Linked DNA regions of Homo sapiens. The protein of the gene in region 4 purifies or fractionates together with the protein of the main gene of each other region. This does not show direct contact. Each region holds a gene or a part of one and is shown on either strand. Other genes may lie near its edges.

Region 1 (3,718 bases), about 29 Mb from region 4:
GCAAGTCTGGGAGCCAGTGCTGTTCCTGTGCAGACTGTACATGACCCTGAGCTGTGGTGTGGGCGTAAGAGGGGGAGACCGTGACATCCACCATCCCATCTTTCCCATTGATCATGAATCTGGCTAGCTGGGCAGTAGTGTCCCCTCACTTCCTCTTCACTTGGGGATTTTGCTCTCCCTAAACATTTGAATTTGAAGATGAAAGCTGTTCTTTGTTCAAGCATGTATGAGTGGACGCCCTACCCTCCTGGAGCGTCCATACACATAAGTACAATGCCAGAATACTTTCATTTTTGAAAGTAGGAAAACCAAATGGCCTTTGAAGGGGAAGTGGGCTTGGACTGCTGCCTTGGCATTTTATTTCAACCATATCCAGAAGCTGGCTGAACTCTAAATGTGGTTCACTCAAAAGCAAGATAAAGAATTTTTATCCTGCTTGGCTAATCCCTGTCAAGGCCCTGTCAAGGGATCTTAAAATTTAGTCAAAAAAGTATTTTGAAAACATTAGTCATTTGCTATATCACTAATTCGTAAAAGGCTGTTAGGCTGTGCTATAAATTCTGATTTTGTAAGTGAAAAATATAATTTGTACTTATTATTACGGGCTGAGGTAATGTTAATTTTCACCATGCTATAAATGCAATGAGGTAATTTGTATGTCTCCAGGAATCTTCTTCTTTGTTTTAAATCTTGTGTTTATTTGGTGTCAGTTGAAAGATATAAACCTTGTTCTGTGGTCTTTAGACATTGTACTTTAGTCTTAAAGGACTCACCAGTGAACTAGAAGATCTCATTGCCTCTCTCCAGGATAACAGTATGACCCTTTTGATGAAAGGCTGAAACAGTTTCTTAAAATCGTAACTTCCCAGAGCAATTCAGATTTATAAACCTGATGGACACTTAAAAGGATTTTGCTTAAAGGATAATTCAGGGTTGTGAGAGCTTGATGGCTTTGCCTACAGCCTGTTTTTCTTTCAAGCTCCATCGGCCTTTCTGGAATCAGTGTTTGATTCATGATTGAGTCAGGCCTCCAACCCTCTAAGCCACAGGTGAAACAATCTTTGATGTCTGGAAAGTTTTAATTTATTAGAGTGTTGGTGTTTCAGAGATCCTCCTTAGCTGTAGACAGAAAGCCGTAGTTAAACAGAACAGGTTGGCCCCAAAGTTGGGTACTCACTGGGCAGGGGAAAAGAGCATTTACCATGGAAAAACTATCTTGTTCTGGGTAAAAACAAAAATTAACACTCCTTGAGAGAAGGTTGAGGGCCACCTGTGGCTGACAGGTTAAATGAGAGATTTGTCATCACATGATCCAGAGCCTTGTTTTGTTTTGTTTTTATTACCTTCCTCTTTCTCTATTTAATCACATAGCTGTCTTTTTACCTCTTTACAACCAAGTATTTAGGCAAATACTAACAGAAAACGACTCAGAGTCATTTATACCCTGGAGCTGCACTGTGGAATTCAGTAGTGACTGGCCACAGTGAGCACTTGGAAAGTGGCTACTGAAACTGACAAGCTAAATTTTAAGTTTTTAAAAAATATTTAGTTGTGTTAAAAAAAAAAAAAAGCATGTAACGTAAAATTTACCATTTTAATCATTCTAAAGTTCAGCAGTGTTAAGTATATTCATATTGAAGTGCAACCAATGTCCAGAACTTTTTAAGTCCTGCAAAACTCAAACTCTATACCCATTAAACAACTCCCCATTTCCCCCTCCCCCCAGGCCCTGGCAGCCACTGTTTTAATTTCTGTTCCTATGAATTTAGCTACTTTATAGACCACATAAAAGTGAAATCATGCAGTGTTTGAATTTTTGTGCCTGGCTTATTTCACTTAGCATAATGTCCTCAAGGTTCATTCTTATTATAGCATATGTCAGAATTTCCTTCCTTTTTAGGGCTGAATTATATTCCATTATATTTGTATACCACATTTTGTTTATCAGTTCATGTGTTGGTGAACATTTGGGTTGCTTTCACCTCGTGGCTATTGTGAATAACGCTGCTATGAACATGGGAATATAGATATCTCTAGAGATTGTTCTTTCAATTTCACTTGATATATAGGGATTGCTGGATCATATAGTAATCCTATTTTCAATTTTTTGAGGAGCCTCCATGCCATTTTCCACAGCAGCTGTACCATTTTACATTCCCACTAACAGTGCACAAAGATTTCTGTATCTCCACATTCTCGCCAACAATCGTGATCTTGTTTTTTGATAACAGCCACCTTAAGGAATGTGAGGTGATGTCTTGTAGTTTTGGTTTGCATTTCTTTAATGATCAGTGATGGTGAACATATTTTCATATGCTTGTTGGCTTTTCATGTGTCATCGTTAGAAAAATGGCAATTCCAGTCTTTGCTCACTTTTTAATGGGGTTATTTTGTTTTTGTTGAATTGTAGAGTTATTTATATATTCTAGTAGTAACCCCTTATTAAATATATGACTTACAGATACTTTCTTCTATTCCATAGGTTGCCTTTTTACTCTACTGATTGTTTCCTTTGATATATAGAAGTGTTTAAGTTTGATGTTGTCCCATTTGTTTATTGTTAATTTATTGACACTTTATTGCCTACGCTTTTAGTGTTATATCCAAGAAATCAGTACCAAACACAGTGTCATGAAGCTTTTCACTTATGTTTTCTTCTAGAGGTTTTATAGTGTTAAGTCTTACATTTAAGTCTTTAATCCATTTTGAGTTAACTTTTGTATATTTTAGAAGGTAAGAGTCCAACTTCATTCTTTTGCATTTGGATATCCAGTTTTCCCTGCATCATTTGTTGAAGAGAATGTCCTTGTTTCATTGAGTGGTGTTAGCTTTTGACCATATACACAAGGGTTTGTTTCTGGGCTCTGGATTCTATTCCATTGGTCTATATATCTTTTTTTTTTTTGAGACAGTCTCACTCTGTCACCCATGCTGGAGTACAATGGCACAATCTCAGCTCACTGCAACCTCTGCCTCCCAGGCTCAAGCAATTCTCATGTCCAGCCTTCTGAGTAGCTGGGAATACAGGCATGTGCTACCACGCCCATCTAATTTTTGTATTTTTAGTAGAGAGAGGGTTTCGCCATGTAGGCCAGGCTGGTCTTGAACTCCTGACCTCAAGCGATCCACCCATCTCGGCCTCCCCAAATGCTGGGATTGCAGACATGAGTCGTAGTGCCCAGCCCCATATATCTATATCTGTCTTGATACCATTACCACACAGTACTGATCACTGTAGCTTTTCACCAATTGAGTATCTCTAATTCAAAAATACAGAATGCTCCAAAATGTGAAACTTTTTGAATACCAACATGACACTCAAAGGAGATGCTCATTGGAGCATTTCACATTTCCAGTTATATGGATTAAGGCTGCTAAAGCAGTAAGTGTTAATGCAAGTATTCCAGAATCTGAAATCTGCACACTGTAATCCCAATCATTTTGGATAAGGGATACTCAACCTGTAATATGTTGTGAAATCAGGAAATGTAAGAATTCCAACTTTGTTCTTTTTCAAGATTATTTTGGTTCTTCAGGATCCTTTGAAATTTTCTGTGAATTTTGGGTTGAATTTTTATATTTCTGCAAAAATAAAAAATTATATTGGGATTTCAATAGGGAATGCATGGAATCTGTGGATCCCTTTTGGTAGTAGTGACATCCTAACAGTATTAAATCTTCTAATCCCTGCACACAGGACTTCCTTCCATTTATTTGT
Region 2 (3,718 bases), on a different chromosome or scaffold from region 4:
CTCTCAGCAAGGTCTGTACACTGGGCCCTGGAGTCCCACAGCCCCCAGTCATGACACCTGGCCTTTCCCTTCAAGAGTGCTTTCTTCAGTGGGCCCAAGGTGTGCCATCCCAGCTGGGCTATGATGACACACCCTGGAAGAGCTTTTCTCACTTAGCCCACGATCCCAAGCTGGGGAAAGGATACCATGCCATCTCAGCTCCATTTCCGTTAGTGACATCAAGGGTCCTTTGCGTCCTTCATGTGAGCTGGACTGGAGACCACTCTTCCTTGCTTCCCCATCCCCCACCCCCTGGCTTTAACACCTCTTTTCCTCGTGGGCCACATGTGTCCCTCTTGCAGCCTCGCTCTACCCATGTGCTGGCATGGTAGAGGAGGATCTGCAGAGTCCCAGCCTGGCCTCAAGAGCCAAGGAGATGAGGAATTGGGGAACCTCTAAATCCTGCCTTGCCCCCCACCCCAAGACCACATATCCACATGACAGCCACCTGGAGCTTCACTCATTCCCTGGACGTGCCCATGGCCTCTCCAGAGCCACAGGCAGCCAGGACCTCTCTTCCTCCCTCGGGTGAAATGGCCCTGCCAAGCATGCCCCTATTGCTGGCCACCACCTCTTGTCAAGGGATTTTGCTCTTACTGAAACTGCTACACTACGAGCCTGTGTTATGGCTGCCAACCTACGCTCCAGAGGGCAGGGCCCATATCCATCTCAGTGACGAGGGTGGTCAGGGCCACAACTAACATTTATTGAGCAGCTACCTAGGGCCAGGCATGGGCCAAACATTTCCCAGATTCATCTCCCTTAATTCTCACCATGAATGTGGCAGGCAGAGCCCACAACCACCAGCACATTACAGATAAACATACCAGGGCTTGGTGAACTAAAGGGATTTCCCCAAGGTTGCACAGAGGATAAGGAAAGGTCCAGGCTCAAACTCATAGCCTAGGTTCTCAGAAGCCCTGACTCACTACTCAGTTCCCTGGCATGCCCCTGCAGTGCCCATCCAGCAAAGAGTGGGAGGAATAAACAAACACAGTGTTTCTTTCAAAGCTCTTCAGTGGCCCAGGCCAGCTCTAGGTGAGCACACTCCAGTAGTACCCAGCATTGGGGATTTTGGAGTCTAGTGGTCTGGCCAGGGCTTGAATGGCTCCAAGAGCCAGGATCCCCGGGAAGGCTCTGCAATGTCATTAATATGGACTGGAAAACAGGTCCGTTATAATTATGTTTTTAAAAATCCAGCACCTGTTGTCCAACTTCAAACGGTCCAAATGCGGGACCAAGTGCAGATGACGGGATGACGGGTGAACCCACAGTGTGGCCTACCTGAGTGAGGACATCCAGCTGGCCCACAATGTGCTCCAGCGTGCTAGTCAGTGTCTGGGGCACACTCACGGGCTCCTGGGGCTGGCTCTGCACAGACTCCACACTCCTGCCTCTGCCTGGGGGGACAGGGAAGTCCACTTCTGGCTAAAGACAGAAAGAAAAAAGTTCCTCAGTCTATCCAGTGCTTGAAGAAATACTGTGAGAGGAATAGCCCCTCCAAAGGATGAAAGGGAAAACCACCAGCAAATTTGAGAAGGTAAGCTCCAAGTGTCAGTAAGAAACAGCAGCGTGGCGGTGTTCCCACATCTGGGTCCACACACATACCTTTCCAGGCAGAGGCCTTAAGTGGGGAGTGGAATCAGAATGCCTTGTGATCCAGGCAGGAAGGGGCCTGGGGAGGAGGGCAGGTAGGCAGGCCAGTGAGTGGCCTCAGCCTGCTCTTGGAGCCCCTCAGGGAAGCTAGCTGCCTCCCATATCTTCAAGCAGCTGGCACCCACCAGCAGGCATCCAGGTGAGTCCAGAGATGCTGAAGCCTGGCCTGGGCCTGAAGTCCCTCCTCTTCCTGGTCAGCTCAACTCTAATTCCCCACCCTTCAACATGGGGGTGTGCCAGGCTTCACAAATGCCTTTCCCAGGCCCAAGAAGCTGTGGCCCAGAACTTGGTGGAAGTGTGTGTGTGGCGGGGAGAGGGGTGTTCCAACCCCACCCTGGCCCAGATCCCCTGGAAAAACAAAGATTTCTGTGTGCATGTCCCAGGCTGGCACATGGCTGGCAGGAATCAGACTCCACAGGAAAGGCACCCCTGGGCTGCTTCAGATAGGACTCCAGGAGGTGAGGGGCTTAGTGTTTCTGCGTAAGGCCCTTCAGCCCCTAAATTCAGCAAAGTCAGCTCCTTGCCTTATGCACAAAGGCTTCTGTGGACCGAAGAAGTGCTGTGCACATGTTCAGTGGGCGGGATGCTGGAGCCAAGGATGTCCAAGGGCAGGGCTGGTCTTAGAGCCTGCAGTTCCTCTGTGGACTTGTTCCTGTGGGAATGTGGTTCAGCACATGGACCCTACCTGCATGTTTTCCTTTATTAGGTAAGTATTCTATTCTCATAGATCACAAACTTTCAAGGGCATGCTGATTTGAACTTGGAAAAATGCTGGCCCTCATGGTAGCTACAGGAGAACTTGAATGTGAGACATGAGCCAGAGGGATGTTCTTGACAGCATGAGCAGCACCGTGTCCACACACCTATCATCAGCATGTCGGCCACTTCCGTGGCCATTTCTAAGACTTCGGCCATCAGGGCTGGGTCTCTTCCAGTCCTCCAGGAATCAACGTGCTTCAGATCTCAATGCTTACCCAGAAGCCCATCCCAAAAGGAAATTTCAGAAGTCCACCAGCCTTGCCAGGAGAGACTTCAGCCTACCACAGTGGCCCCCAGACTAAGGCAGTTCTGTCAGGAGACACAGCAGAGTGCAGTGGTGAGGAATGGTGACTCAGACAGTCACTGACCAGCTCTGGGCCTCCATTTCCTCATCTATAAAATAGGGATGAAGACTGGGCCAGTCCTTCAAACGGCTGGGCTGTGAGAGGTGCTTATCTGAAGCTACCAGCAGGCCTTTCTTAAGAAATGTTCAGTGCTGTGCCCACTCCTTCCAGAGGACCCCCTAGCAGTGCAGACACACACTCTTCCACTGGAGGAAGGGTGTGAGCAGGGAACTCTTCTGTCCCACAGCCAGCATTGTCATGGAATGGGCCAGAGTCTGGTGCTGCTGGCTGCTTAGGAAGGAGGGAATGGAAAATGTGAGTTTCTGCAGAATGGCCCAGAAATGGACAGTGCTGAGCTCAGCCTCTGGAAGCACAGTGGATGCTGCAGGGAGGCAGGGTGAGTACCACTGACTTTAGCAATAGAAACCCTCCTGGATGAGCCAAAGCTGAGCCAGCTCCAAGGGAGTATTAAAGACAGCGGCCATGGCACTCCAAGCTGGAGAGGTGGCCTTTACAACAGAGGGTTGCGGCAGCCACCATGTTTTCCCACCTATACCACACTTTCATGGGCTGTCTCCATTTGACAATAAAGAGAACTAAGGCTCAGTCAGAAAACGACTGTCTAAAGGTAACCAGCCTCAAACTCTAGTGCTGCCCTGAGCCATTTCCCTGCCTCCTTGCCCACTCCCATCAGAAAACACCACAGCACTTAACACTCCACCAGTCCAGCAATCGCCATGGTTTACTTGCCATCCACTGTGTGCCCTCATTTAATGTCACCTCACTTAATACGTGTAACCTCACTTCATCCTTATGATGGCCCTTCCCAATAGGCATTATTAACCTTATTTTTCAGATATGGACCCTTGGGCTCAAAGAGGTTAAGTAACTTGTTCTAAGTTACCCAGCAAATAACAGAA
Region 3 (3,718 bases), on a different chromosome or scaffold from region 4:
GATCCAGTTTCTTCAACAAATAAATGACATAGAAGGAAAACAAAGGTGAGAGAGGGTGAGAAGAAACTATTACAGACTAAAATGTGTGGACCTTATCTGAATCCATGTTTGAACAAACCACTGTAAAACAAAACAAAGCAAAAAAACTATAAAAAGACATTCTGGGTCAATCTGATAAATCTGTACATGAAATAGGATATTAGATGACACTTAAGAGCTGCTGTCAACTGTTACGTATAATGATGTTTCAAAAAAAAGGGCATGTATTAGTCACTATTGCAGAAATTTTGGTTGAAAGGATAGGATGAGATTTACATTAAAATACTCCAGCAATTAGAAGACGAAGAGGTGTTGGTGGTGATGGAGATAATGAAACAGAATTGATAAAACCTGTTGAGGCTGGGTGGCTAATTTCTCCCTTTTATATAAATTTGAAAGTCTCAGCCAGGCATGGTGGCTCACGCCTGCAATCCCAACACTTTGGGAGGTCGAGGTGGGTGGATCACCTGAGGTCAGGAGTTCAAGACCAGCCTGGCCAAATGGCGAAACCTCATCTCTACTAAAAAATACAAAATCAGCCGGGCGTGATGGTGGGCACCTGTAATCCCAGCTACTCAGGAGGCTGAGGCAGGGAGGATTGGTTGAACCCGGGAGGTGGAGGTTGCAGTGAGCTGAGATCCTGCCACTGCACTCCAGCCTGGGCGACAGAGTAAGAGTCCATCTCAAAAAAAAAAAGAAAAGTCTCCATAATAAAAAGTTAAAAAAAGAAAAATGGGTGTGGAGGTTAAATTTATAATTCAAACATACTTGTTTGGTAGTCTAAAAATAGGCTGATGAGACAGCAGTCTCTGCCAGAGCAACCACATTAAAAATTGTGTTTAGATTCTCAGGAAGGCCTGCCAAAGCCCATTTAGTTGGTAGCGTTTTTCAAAGGGGTACTTGTTGACATTGTGGGTAGATCAATTCTTTGTGGAATGGGAACTACCTTGGACACTGCAGGACATTCAATTCAGCACCACAGGCTCAAGACACCCAAAGCCAACATCACCCCCTCCAGTCACTGTAACAACAGAAGGAGAAAATCTCCCATTTCCCCAGAATGTCCCTGGGAGCATTAAGGAACCAACTCTGGTTAAGAACTGCTTCATTAGACCACATACTGTCGATTTACGATTAAAAAAAGAGAGACAATAAAGAGGGCCACAAAAATATTAGTAAAGAATTAATTGGCTATTGAAAAGGCAATTTTTAATTTAAAAAAGAGTCTGTCTTATTAATTCATGGTGGCAGTTGGGGATAAATAAGAAAAGCATACATACAGTCAGCATTTTTCAATGACTGCTTCTTTTTGGAAGGTTTGGAGATGACTTTTATCCGCTTGCTGAGGAACACACCAATGTCATCACTGTTGCCATAGAACATCTTTACAGACAACATGAAGTGCTTTCGCTTGTCTGAGTCAGATATATACAATGTTTTGGCTGTGCAATAGTTCTGTGAAAGAAAAGTAAAGTTTTAACAGCAGCAAAACCTTGTTTGTTTATGTAGTACCTAAAACTCAGAATGGCCATGGTTTAAGTAATAAGTAAAACAATTCCAAGGGATAGCTGATAAAACCAACTCTAAAAATTATCAACTATAAAAATTACTGAAATTGATTTCGGAAAAGTACAAAGTCTTCCTTATAAAGTCTGTAGAACACAAACATTGTCATCTATTGTATCCTCTTTAAAAGACCATTTAAAAAAACAGCCTTTTCTTGTTTTACATAGCTCTACAACTGTATCATGGAATTATCACTCAACGTTACAGCAGTAACTTTTAAAATAAATTTTACAGTTAAAAAAAATCAATGACTTTCTCCAAAAAAAAAATAATAATAAAGCTATCAGAATTCAAGAAATTATGTAAAAGATTTTAGCAGTAGTTCTTCTCAAAATAGTGCATAAAATATTTTTCTTTATATAGCTGAACACTAGAGTAATCACTTATAAGATTGAGGAAAACAATGATAGACAAACTGGATGATTATAAAATATCTTAAACCAGAAAGAGATTATATAAGCATTACTTTAAAGAACTATTTTTAAAATGGTTAACTTTGCCCAAAAGGACGATTCATATGTATCACCAGAAGAACTGAATTTAAAGGTACTAGAGAAAATGCTCAAGGCATTATGTCAGTTTACCAGAATTTAAATTCTGATAACTGAAAAGATAAAGAGATATAGCACTTTACAAACAGCAAAGACCCTTCAAAATGCTACTGCTTATATTATATATAACAATTCTAAAATCTTTCCTATTCTCTTGATCCCTGTGAATCAGGGAGGGGTCTAAATTATTGTCCTTTTCCAGATAAGATAAATGATGCTGAAACACAGCATAAGTATCTAAAGTATCGAATTATATTTTTTAAAGGATCAACATTCCACTTTAAAATTAAGCTAAACAAGTTTCTTCAACTGCCTCTCCTGTATCTTCCTTTTAAAAAGCAGAGCAAATGCTACTCAGGAAACAGTTAATGACTTCTAGGTTTTTATCTTTAAAATTTTATTCACAGACAGCCTCGGTAGCAGACAAAACTACTGCAATAGTTTATTGTATTTCTCATAGCAAAGCTATATAAGAAAATTTAGATGCCATCTTGAACATTATACATTTAACTAAGTTTTTAAAAATCAAAAGTTTGGTAAAAGCTTTGAGAGGTTTTGCTCTGTAGAAGGCAAAAATAAGATAAAGCCAATCATAGTAATAAATAAAAACAGGCCAGGGTGGTGGCTCATGCCTGTAATCTCAGCACTTTGGGAGGCCAAGGTGGACAGACTGCTTAAGTCCAGAAGTTTGAGACCAGCCTGAGCAACATGGTGAAACCCCATCTCTACGAAAAACACAAAAATTATCCAGGCATGGTGGTGCATGCCTGTAGTCCCAGCTACTCAGGAGGCTGAGGTGGGACGGTCGCTTGAGCCCAGGAGGCAGAGGTTGTAATGGGCCGTGATCCCACCACCGCACTCCAGCCTGGGCGGCACGGTGGCACCCTGTCTCAAAATGAATAAAGATAAAGAAACAAAAAACAACAGTACTTTGCAGTCACATCACTCCTTGCACCCAAGATCTCTAACGCACTCAGAGATGGCATCTGTGAGCTGCTATACCCATAGGTCGGCCATACTCTTAAAAGTGACAGACAGCATTGAAGGTCAAATTAAGCCTAAACAATGAAATTCTTCTGCAACATAAGACGAGGTCTATGAAAATGGGTATCAATGTACTAAAGCAGACAGTCATGGGAAGCAAAAATGAAATTTATATCTAAATGAAGGTAATTACATTCTAATGGGAAAGCTTAAAAATGTTGAGATGGCTTTTGAGTGTTAAAATTAAAAGGTAAGATCCATATCAGAAAGAGAAAATACTGAAATCCAGCATAAATAAGACATATTGGCAAACAAGAACGGAAAAAAAGAACCAAGAAGGTTGGATCATAAGACCTACACAAAAAGAACTGCATTTTGTTCGGAAAAAACAAACACACATATATCTCCTTGGAAAGAAAGGAAATATATCCCTAATTACAATGAGTAGTTTGAATCCACAAAAATCATAATCAAGATAATTTTATGGGAACTATTAGTTTTAAAAAACTATAAGGCCACTGACCACAAACTACTCAAATTCCATTAAGAAAAGAAGGAAAAAGTCACTGACTCATAGA
Region 4 (3,718 bases):
CCTTCCTTTACTCAGGGTAAATCATGCTACCTGTCCCACAGGGTGGTTGTGAGGATTTAAGGAGACAGTGCACACACAGCACTGAGTCTATCTGAATCACACTAAGTGCTTAATAAATATTTATGGCCGGGTGCGGTGGCTCATGCCTGTAATCCCAGCACTTTGGGAGGCCGAGGCGGGTGGATCACTTGAGGTCAGGAGTTCGAAACTAGCCTGGCCAACACGGTGAAACCCCATCTCTACTAAAAATACAAAATTAGTTGGGTGTGGTGGCGCGTGCTTGTAATCCCAGCTACTCGGGAGGCTGAGGCAGGAGAACTGCTTGAACCTGGGAGGCGGAGGTTGCAGTGAGCCAAGATCGTGCCACTGCACTCTGGCCTGGGCAACAGAGTGAGACTCTGTCTCAAAAATAAATACATAAAAATTTATTATTACAATATGATTTATTATTACGTAATGCTATTCCCAAGCCATGGCAGAGGTAGTTCTGTAGGGGACTTTTATTAGGGGAGTTGTAATGACACTCTCAAGTACACTGAGAAGGACTTTCCCACAGTGCCTCAGGGTAAGTCACTCATGGAAGGCACTTCTTAGAGGTCTGTTTGTCCTAAAGGCTGGGAATTTAAGCCCTTTATGTTTCTTCTGTTCTGTTATCTGGCATTATTTCTTTAAAAAAGAAAGAAAAGAAAACATATACACACACCAGAAAGGAAGGGGTGGAGATAGCTGAAAACCTTTACCCCTAATGCAGTGTTTCAAATTGTGGGATAGTAGATGATAACTGATTTTGGTGGATCGTGAAGAGGGAGGAGCCGGGCACGGTGGCTCATGCCTATAATCCCAGCACTTTGGGAGGCTGAGGTGAGTGGATCACGAGGTCAGGAGATTGAGACCATCCTGGCTAACGCAGTGAAACTCCATCTCTACTAAAAATACAAAAAATTAGCTGGGAGTGGTAGCACACGCCTGTAGTCCCAGCTACTCAGGAGGCTAAGGCAGGAGAATCACTTGAACCCGGGAGGCGGAGGTGGCAGTGAGTGCCACTGCACTCCAGCCTGGGCAACAGAGCGTCTCAAAAAAAAAAAAGAAGAGGGAAGGATTAGCCACTAGGGAGGCTTAGGTGGGAGGATCACTTGAGTCTTGGAGGTGGAGGTTGCAGTGAGCTGTGACTGCACCACTGTACCATAGCTTAGGCGACAGAGTGAGACTGTGTCTCAAAAATAAATAAATAAATAAATAAAGAGGGAGGGAAGGAGGAAATAAGAAAGCAAAAAGAATAGAAAATATCAAAGTGTACTGCACAAAGTAAATCAAGTTAAGAGTTTTGTTTCATTACTATGTGTATGTCTAAATACTTATTTACAAATTCATACAGGTAAGTTGTATTGCTCTATAAGGTGATTTATAACTGTGGGTCACTGTGGAAAACCATTGCCCTAACAAATACAAAGTGCCTTACTTGCTAATTCCTGTAGAATGTAAAGTAAAATTTTTGGCAATTTATTCACCATTTAGTTCTATTACACTAAAATAATTTTAGAGGTCCCATGGACTATAAGATTACTATAAGGTTTACCAATAGAGAGAAATTTGGGTTTGGAGTACTAACAATTACAAATCATAACTATATTAGGAGTGATTTTAGAAAAGGAGACTTTGCTTTAAAATAAGGTTCCATTAGCACATTTAAAATAGAATTTCCTAAGAAAGAGATCATCAGAAACGTATATAGCATGCAACAAGAGTACATGTTCTAGAGGGAGACTTGCCCAGGGGAGAAATGAGTACAGGGAAAAGTTTCTGGTGAATTATTTGAATACCAACAACACACACAAGGTTTGACTCCCTCACATTCCTACAGCAGGTGGGAGGCAAGAGTACATTGAAACTGGGAAACCCCCCATAACTCTCAATATTCAGCCTCATTAATACAAATATTTCCATTTCCACCAAGCATGTTAGAAACACTGCCGTCAACAGAAACATTTTTGGCTAGATTGCTTGAATTAAAAATGTTAGTGTCCCAGTAGAGGGCAATATTCACTCCCAGAAACCTTGGGTACACAATTCAACACAGAACACAACACAAGCACTGAAGAGAAACTTCTTAGATACTCCCACACTGGTGTCCTGTCAGCTCAGTGCTCCAATTAATTCCACAAATGCTGCCAAGGCGGCAATGGGCTGGCTGCGTTTGTGGCTGATGATAAAATCTCGGCTCAGCTGTCTAGGAGTATCAAGAAATCTTTAAATCTGTGCTACTTGGCACTGGGTAGGACTGGCTGACACATTCCCAATTCTCTGAGGCTCGTCTTCCAACCATATGGGAACTCTGCTGTACAGCTCAGGCTCTGCAATGCCAGCGTCTAGCCCGGATCTTGATCAGGGCGTTTCATTCAGCCACCAGCACCCGTAGAACCCAGAGAGAATGCCCAAATCTCTCAGCTGGAGAATCTGACTGAACAAAAAGAAGCTGATGTTGGGTTACAAGTGAGGGGTAAATAGACTATTTAGGGAGACTCCAGGTGTCCATGCCCAGTGACATCCCAGGGAGTGGGACACCCTGGAGATGCTCCAAGTGCTAGACGTCTTCATCGCAACCCCAAATCCAAGAGTGGTCACTGAATTTAGTTCAATGAATGAGTGGCTCAAAAGTGCCCTGAGAGTCAGCACGCTGGAACACTCAGAAAGCAGCATGGCTTGGGGAAGCAGAGAGGCCATGTGAAACAGTGGTCAGTTGGGCTGGCATCTCCCTCCTGGAATCACAGTCGCATGAATGATGCTTATACCACTTTCATTTTCAACATTATTATTTTCATCATCATCATCAAATTTTTTTTTGAGACAGGATCTCACTCTGTTGCCCAGGCTGGAGTGCAGTGATGTGATCTTGGCTCACTGCAACCTTCGCCATCACTCCCCACCCTCCCCAGGCTCAAGTTATCCTCCCACCACAGCCTCCCAAGTAGTTGGGACCACAGGCACACACCACCATGGTCAGCTAATTTTTTTTGTATTTTTAGTAGAGACCCTGTACTTATTTTTCTATCCTGGGTATTAATTAGGGCAGGTCTCCCTCTAGAACATGTACTCTTGTTGCACAGTATATGAATTTCTAATGATCTCTTTCTGCACAAAATCCTATTTTAAATGTGCTCACCATGTTGTCCAGGCTGGCCTCGAACTCTTGAGCTCCAGTAATCGGCCCACCTTGGCTTCCCAAAGTGTTGGAATTACAAGTGTGAGCCACCACATCTGGCCAAAACAATTTTTTTTTAAATTAAATCAGAGACAGGGCTGCACTAAGTTGCCTATGTTCACAGGCGTGACCCCACTACTGATCAGCAGGGGAGTTCTGACCTGCTCTGTTTCTGACCTGAGCCGGTTCACCCCTCCTTAGGCAACCCAGTGGTACCCCTCACTAAGTTCAGCATCAATACGGTGACCTCCCAGGATCAAGCCAGACACAGTCTCTGCTCTCACGGCTCTTACTCTGTGGGTCATCCTTCTGCTGCCAACACTATATGGTAAGGGTGAAGGATGTGCTAAGATGGCCGAAGAAACAAGATTCTGGGGAGATAAAGCAACTATAATGAAGGGAAAAGAGGAAGAACAGAAGACCTAGCAAGATATGAGTGCACCTAAGGCTTCTCATGCATCTTACAAATATCCCAGTATCCCACCAGCATGATGTTTGAGTGCCCAGTTCGGAATCACG
Region 5 (3,718 bases), on a different chromosome or scaffold from region 4:
GCCAGGTTAGTTTTGAACTCCTGACCTCAGGTAATTTGCTCTCCTTGGCCTTCCAAAGTGCTGGGATTACAGGTGTGAGCCACCGTGCCCAGCCTAAAACGTTCACTTTTCCAGCCTTAAAAAGTTTAGTTTTAGAAAAATTTACTCCGGCTGTTGTGTCAAAAGTAGAATCGAGAGGGACAATGATGAGATTAGAGAGACCAGTTAGGAACTAGTCTAGGCACTGAGAAATGGTGGCTCCTCAAACTAGGGAGGAAAGTAGTGAAGTGATCCATTTCTTTCTTTTTTTTTTTTTTTTTTAAATCTTTTCCTCTCTCTGTTTTAAAAAAGTTTTCTTTTTAGAGAAGTGATCCATTTCTGAATACATTTTGGTAGTAAAATGGGTATTCTTTTTTTTTTTGAGACAGAGTCTTGCTCTGTTCCCCAGGCTGTAGTGCAGTGGTGCGATCTCGGCTCACTGCATGCTCCGCCTTCCGGGTTCACGCCATTCTTCTGCCTCAGCCTCCCCAGCAGCTGGGACTACAGGCGCACGCCGCCATGCCCGGCTAATTATTTTTGTAGAGACGGGGTTTCACCGTGTTAGCCAGGATGGTCTCGATCTTCTGACCTCGTGATCCGCCCACCTCGGCCTCCCAAAGTGCTGGGATTACAGGCGTGAGCCACCACGCCCGGCTCGTAAAATGGGTATTCTTAACAGAGCTAAGTTAAGGTGATTTAAGTGGTTTTGGCTTGAGCAACTCATATGGAGTTGTCTTAGCAAGGAAGACATAGTTATGGGAAGATTGGGAGTTTGGTTTCAAACATATCGATGTGTTAAAATGTCTTCTAGACATAAAGGGTACATGTGAGGAAGGCAGTTGAATCAGTATGTGTCCCTGTCTCTGCCCCCACAGCTCACTGACCAGGCATGGCTCCCAGCTGGGGTTCGAGTGCCCCTCCACCAAGTGCCCTATGCCGTGAAGGGCTGTTTCCGCTTCCTGCCCCCAGCCCAGGTTACTGTTGTGGGCAGCTACCTTCTGGGCACCTGCATCCGACCAGACATCAATGTGGATGTGGCACTGACCATGCCCAGGGTAAGGTCCAGGGTTTAGGGGATAGAGGCCCACCACCTGACTACCTACAAATCCTGGATCCCTCTTTCTTATCTGCCGCTTGCCAGGGGATTGAAGTCAGAATTCTAAATCAGAAGAGCAGACCATTGCAGGCATCCTGAAGGCAGCTTAGATCCCTCGGGCCAGTTGCTGTCCTTTTGGAGCTTTGCTCTCCAGATATGAGAACTGGGCCTAGTGTTGCTAACCGTGGCTCAGGCACTTCTGTCAGCAGAGGAGCCCTGGCTCTCTCACCTTGGTTTCACCTTGGCCCACAGCTCCACAAGCACTTATGTGCCTGGCCTTCTCTTCTCCCCTGGCCCCTCCAGGAAATCCTACAGGACAAGGACGGGCTGAACCAGCGCTACTTCCGCAAGCGTGCCCTCTACCTGGCCCACTTGGCTCACCACCTGGCCCAGGACCCCCTCTTTGGCAGTGTTTGCTTCTCCTACACAAATGGCTGCCACCTGAAACCCTCACTGTTGCTGCGGCCGCGTGGTGAGAGGCACACATTGGGCTGAGGGCATAGCATGGGATGGTAAATCTGGAGGAGAAGGCACAGAGGCACGGAGGCCTCAAGTATGGGGGGACAGGATGGGGAGCCCTCTGGCTCCAAGGGCTCCTGCAGAGTCTCAGCACTCACTGTCTCTGGCAGGAAAGGATGAGCGCCTGGTCACTGTACGTCTGCATCCGTGCCCTCCACCTGACTTCTTCCGCCCGTGCCGCTTGCTGCCAACCAAGAACAATGTGCGCTCTGCCTGGTACCGAGGGCAGAGTCCTGCAGGGGATGGTGAGCAGGCCCTGGTGTTGAGGTGGAGCTGGAGGGAAGAGGTGTGGGGACTTTTCCTCTCATGGCTTCCCTTTTCATCCCACAGGTAGCCCAGAGCCTCCTACCCCCCGCTATAACACATGGGTCCTGCAAGATACAGTTCTCGAGTCCCATTTGCAGCTGCTGTCAACCATTCTGAGTTCAGCCCAGGGCCTGAAGGATGGCGTGGCACTTCTGAAGGTCTGGCTGCGGCAGCGGGAGCTGGACAAGGTGAGTTGGGGGTGGCGCAGCCTCCCTACCTGAGCGCCTGTGTGATGGGCAGGCTCTGACCTCAGCCTCTCCCTGTCTCTTTCAGGGCCAGGGTGGGTTTACTGGGTTCCTTGTCTCCATGCTGGTTGTCTTCCTTGTGTCTACACGCAAGATCCATACCACCATGAGTGGCTACCAGGTCCTGAGAAGTGTCTTGCAGTTTCTGGGTGAGGCAACTAGGTGGGGAAAGGCCAGGGGCTCCACTCCTCCTGGGAATCCTCTCATCCCAGTAGCAGTCTTTTGGTGTTTTGCCATCAGACAGATGAGCAAACTGAATCGGCTGAGGGAGGGTGTCATTAGGGCTGGGTCCCCAGAAGGGGATACCTTCTAATACACTTGTGATTCACTTCAGCCACTACAGACCTGACAGTCAACGGGATCAGTTTATGTCTCAGCTCAGATCCCTCTTTGGTGAGTTGGGGAAGGGCCAGGTCTATGCCAGGAGGCCTGCAAGTAAGGTGCCAATCCTGACCTGCTTCTCTCTACACCCCCCAAGCCGGCCCTGGCTGACTTCCACCAGGCCTTCTCCGTTGTCTTCCTGGATTCCTCAGGCCATCTCAACCTCTGTGCTGATGTCACTGCCTCTACTTACCACCAGGTACCAATGGGCCCCCAATCTGTGTTCCCCTGATGTCTCAGCCCAGACTCTGTCCCTTTTGCAAGTACCAGAACCCCAGAAACTCCTCTTCAAAGAGTTAAGTTTAGGGCATGTCTCCTGGTCTAAGCCCTTGGATCAATGAAGGGCACAGGGATGGTCCCTTCTGTGGCTCCAGGTACAGCATGAGGCACGGCTGTCTATGATGTTGCTGGACAGCAGAGCTGACGACGGGTTCCACCTGCTGTTGATGACTCCCAAACCCATGATCCGGGCTTTTGACCATGTCCTGCAGTGAGTTTAGGGGTGACAGGGTATGTTGGCGGGTCCTGTCTCTTCGGGGCTACAGTGGTGGGGCAAAGGTCTTCAGACAGGTGCTCAGATCATTCAGGGAGGAGGTGGTACTAGGGGCCAGCAACCTGATTACCCCTCTTTGGCCCTTTGTACCCCTCCAGTCTCCGTCCACTGAGTCGCCTGCAGGCAGCGTGCCACCGGCTGAAGCTCTGGCCAGAGCTGCAGGACAATGGTGGGGACTATGTCTCAGCTGCTTTGGGCCCCCTGACCACCCTCCTGGAGCAGGGCCTGGGGGCTCGGCTGAACCTGCTGGCTCACTCTCGACCCCCAGTCCCAGAGGTGAGGTGGTGTAGGTTGGGGAGTTTGGGTCTGAGTTGGGCTGGATCCAGGGTCCCAAGAGACACAAAGGACACACCATTCCTCCAGCTAGGCGTTTCTAGCTAGCTAGAAAGTAGGTTTCTAGGCCAGGCTGGAGGATTGGAGGACTGAGCTCAGCCTTTTGAAATCCTGCAGTGGGACATCAGCCAAGATCCACCAAAGCACAAAGACTCTGGGACCCTGACCCTGGGACTCCTTCTCCGGCCTGAGGGACTGACCAGCGTCCTTGAGCTGGGTCCAGAGGCAGACCAGCCTGAGGTGGGGGACCCCAGCATGTACACTGGA

The links.
Region 1: the proteins of BEND3 (region 4) and MAP7 purify together in Homo sapiens (affinity purification with mass spectrometry; one large-scale study listed by BioGRID and IntAct). This does not show direct contact.
Region 2: the proteins of BEND3 (region 4) and POC1A purify together in Homo sapiens (affinity purification with mass spectrometry; one large-scale study listed by BioGRID and IntAct). This does not show direct contact.
Region 3: the proteins of BEND3 (region 4) and RBPJ purify together in Homo sapiens (affinity purification with mass spectrometry; one large-scale study listed by BioGRID and IntAct). This does not show direct contact.
Region 5: the proteins of BEND3 (region 4) and NOL6 purify together in Homo sapiens (affinity purification with mass spectrometry; one large-scale study listed by BioGRID and IntAct). This does not show direct contact.

Annotation. Positions count from the first base shown.
Region 1 is NC_000006.12:136,368,758-136,372,475, reverse strand, and holds part of MAP7 (ensconsin), read left to right. Parts: intron 1-3,718. UniProt on the Homo sapiens protein: Microtubule-stabilizing protein that may play an important role during reorganization of microtubules during polarization and differentiation of epithelial cells. Associates with microtubules in a dynamic manner.
Region 2 is NC_000003.12:52,095,246-52,098,963, forward strand, and holds part of POC1A (POC1 centriolar protein homolog A), read right to left. Parts: intron 1,468-3,718; coding exon 1,324-1,467; intron 1-1,323.
Region 3 is NC_000004.12:26,418,327-26,422,044, reverse strand, and holds part of RBPJ (recombining binding protein suppressor of hairless), read right to left. Parts: intron 1,495-3,718; coding exon 1,320-1,494; intron 1-1,319. UniProt on the Homo sapiens protein: Transcriptional regulator that plays a central role in Notch signaling, a signaling pathway involved in cell-cell communication that regulates a broad spectrum of cell-fate determinations.
Region 4 is NC_000006.12:107,074,010-107,077,727, forward strand, and holds part of BEND3 (BEN domain-containing protein 3), read right to left. Parts: intron 1-3,718. UniProt on the Homo sapiens protein: Transcriptional repressor which associates with the NoRC (nucleolar remodeling complex) complex and plays a key role in repressing rDNA transcription.
Region 5 is NC_000009.12:33,467,367-33,471,084, reverse strand, and holds part of NOL6 (nucleolar protein 6), read left to right. Parts: intron 1-893; coding exon 894-1,073; intron 1,074-1,417; coding exon 1,418-1,586; intron 1,587-1,743; coding exon 1,744-1,878; intron 1,879-1,963; coding exon 1,964-2,127; intron 2,128-2,212; coding exon 2,213-2,333; intron 2,334-2,518; coding exon 2,519-2,577; intron 2,578-2,662; coding exon 2,663-2,764; intron 2,765-2,939; coding exon 2,940-3,055; intron 3,056-3,149; exon of another isoform or gene 3,150-3,216; coding exon 3,217-3,394; intron 3,395-3,568; coding exon 3,569-3,691; intron 3,692-3,718. UniProt on the Homo sapiens protein: Part of the small subunit (SSU) processome, first precursor of the small eukaryotic ribosomal subunit.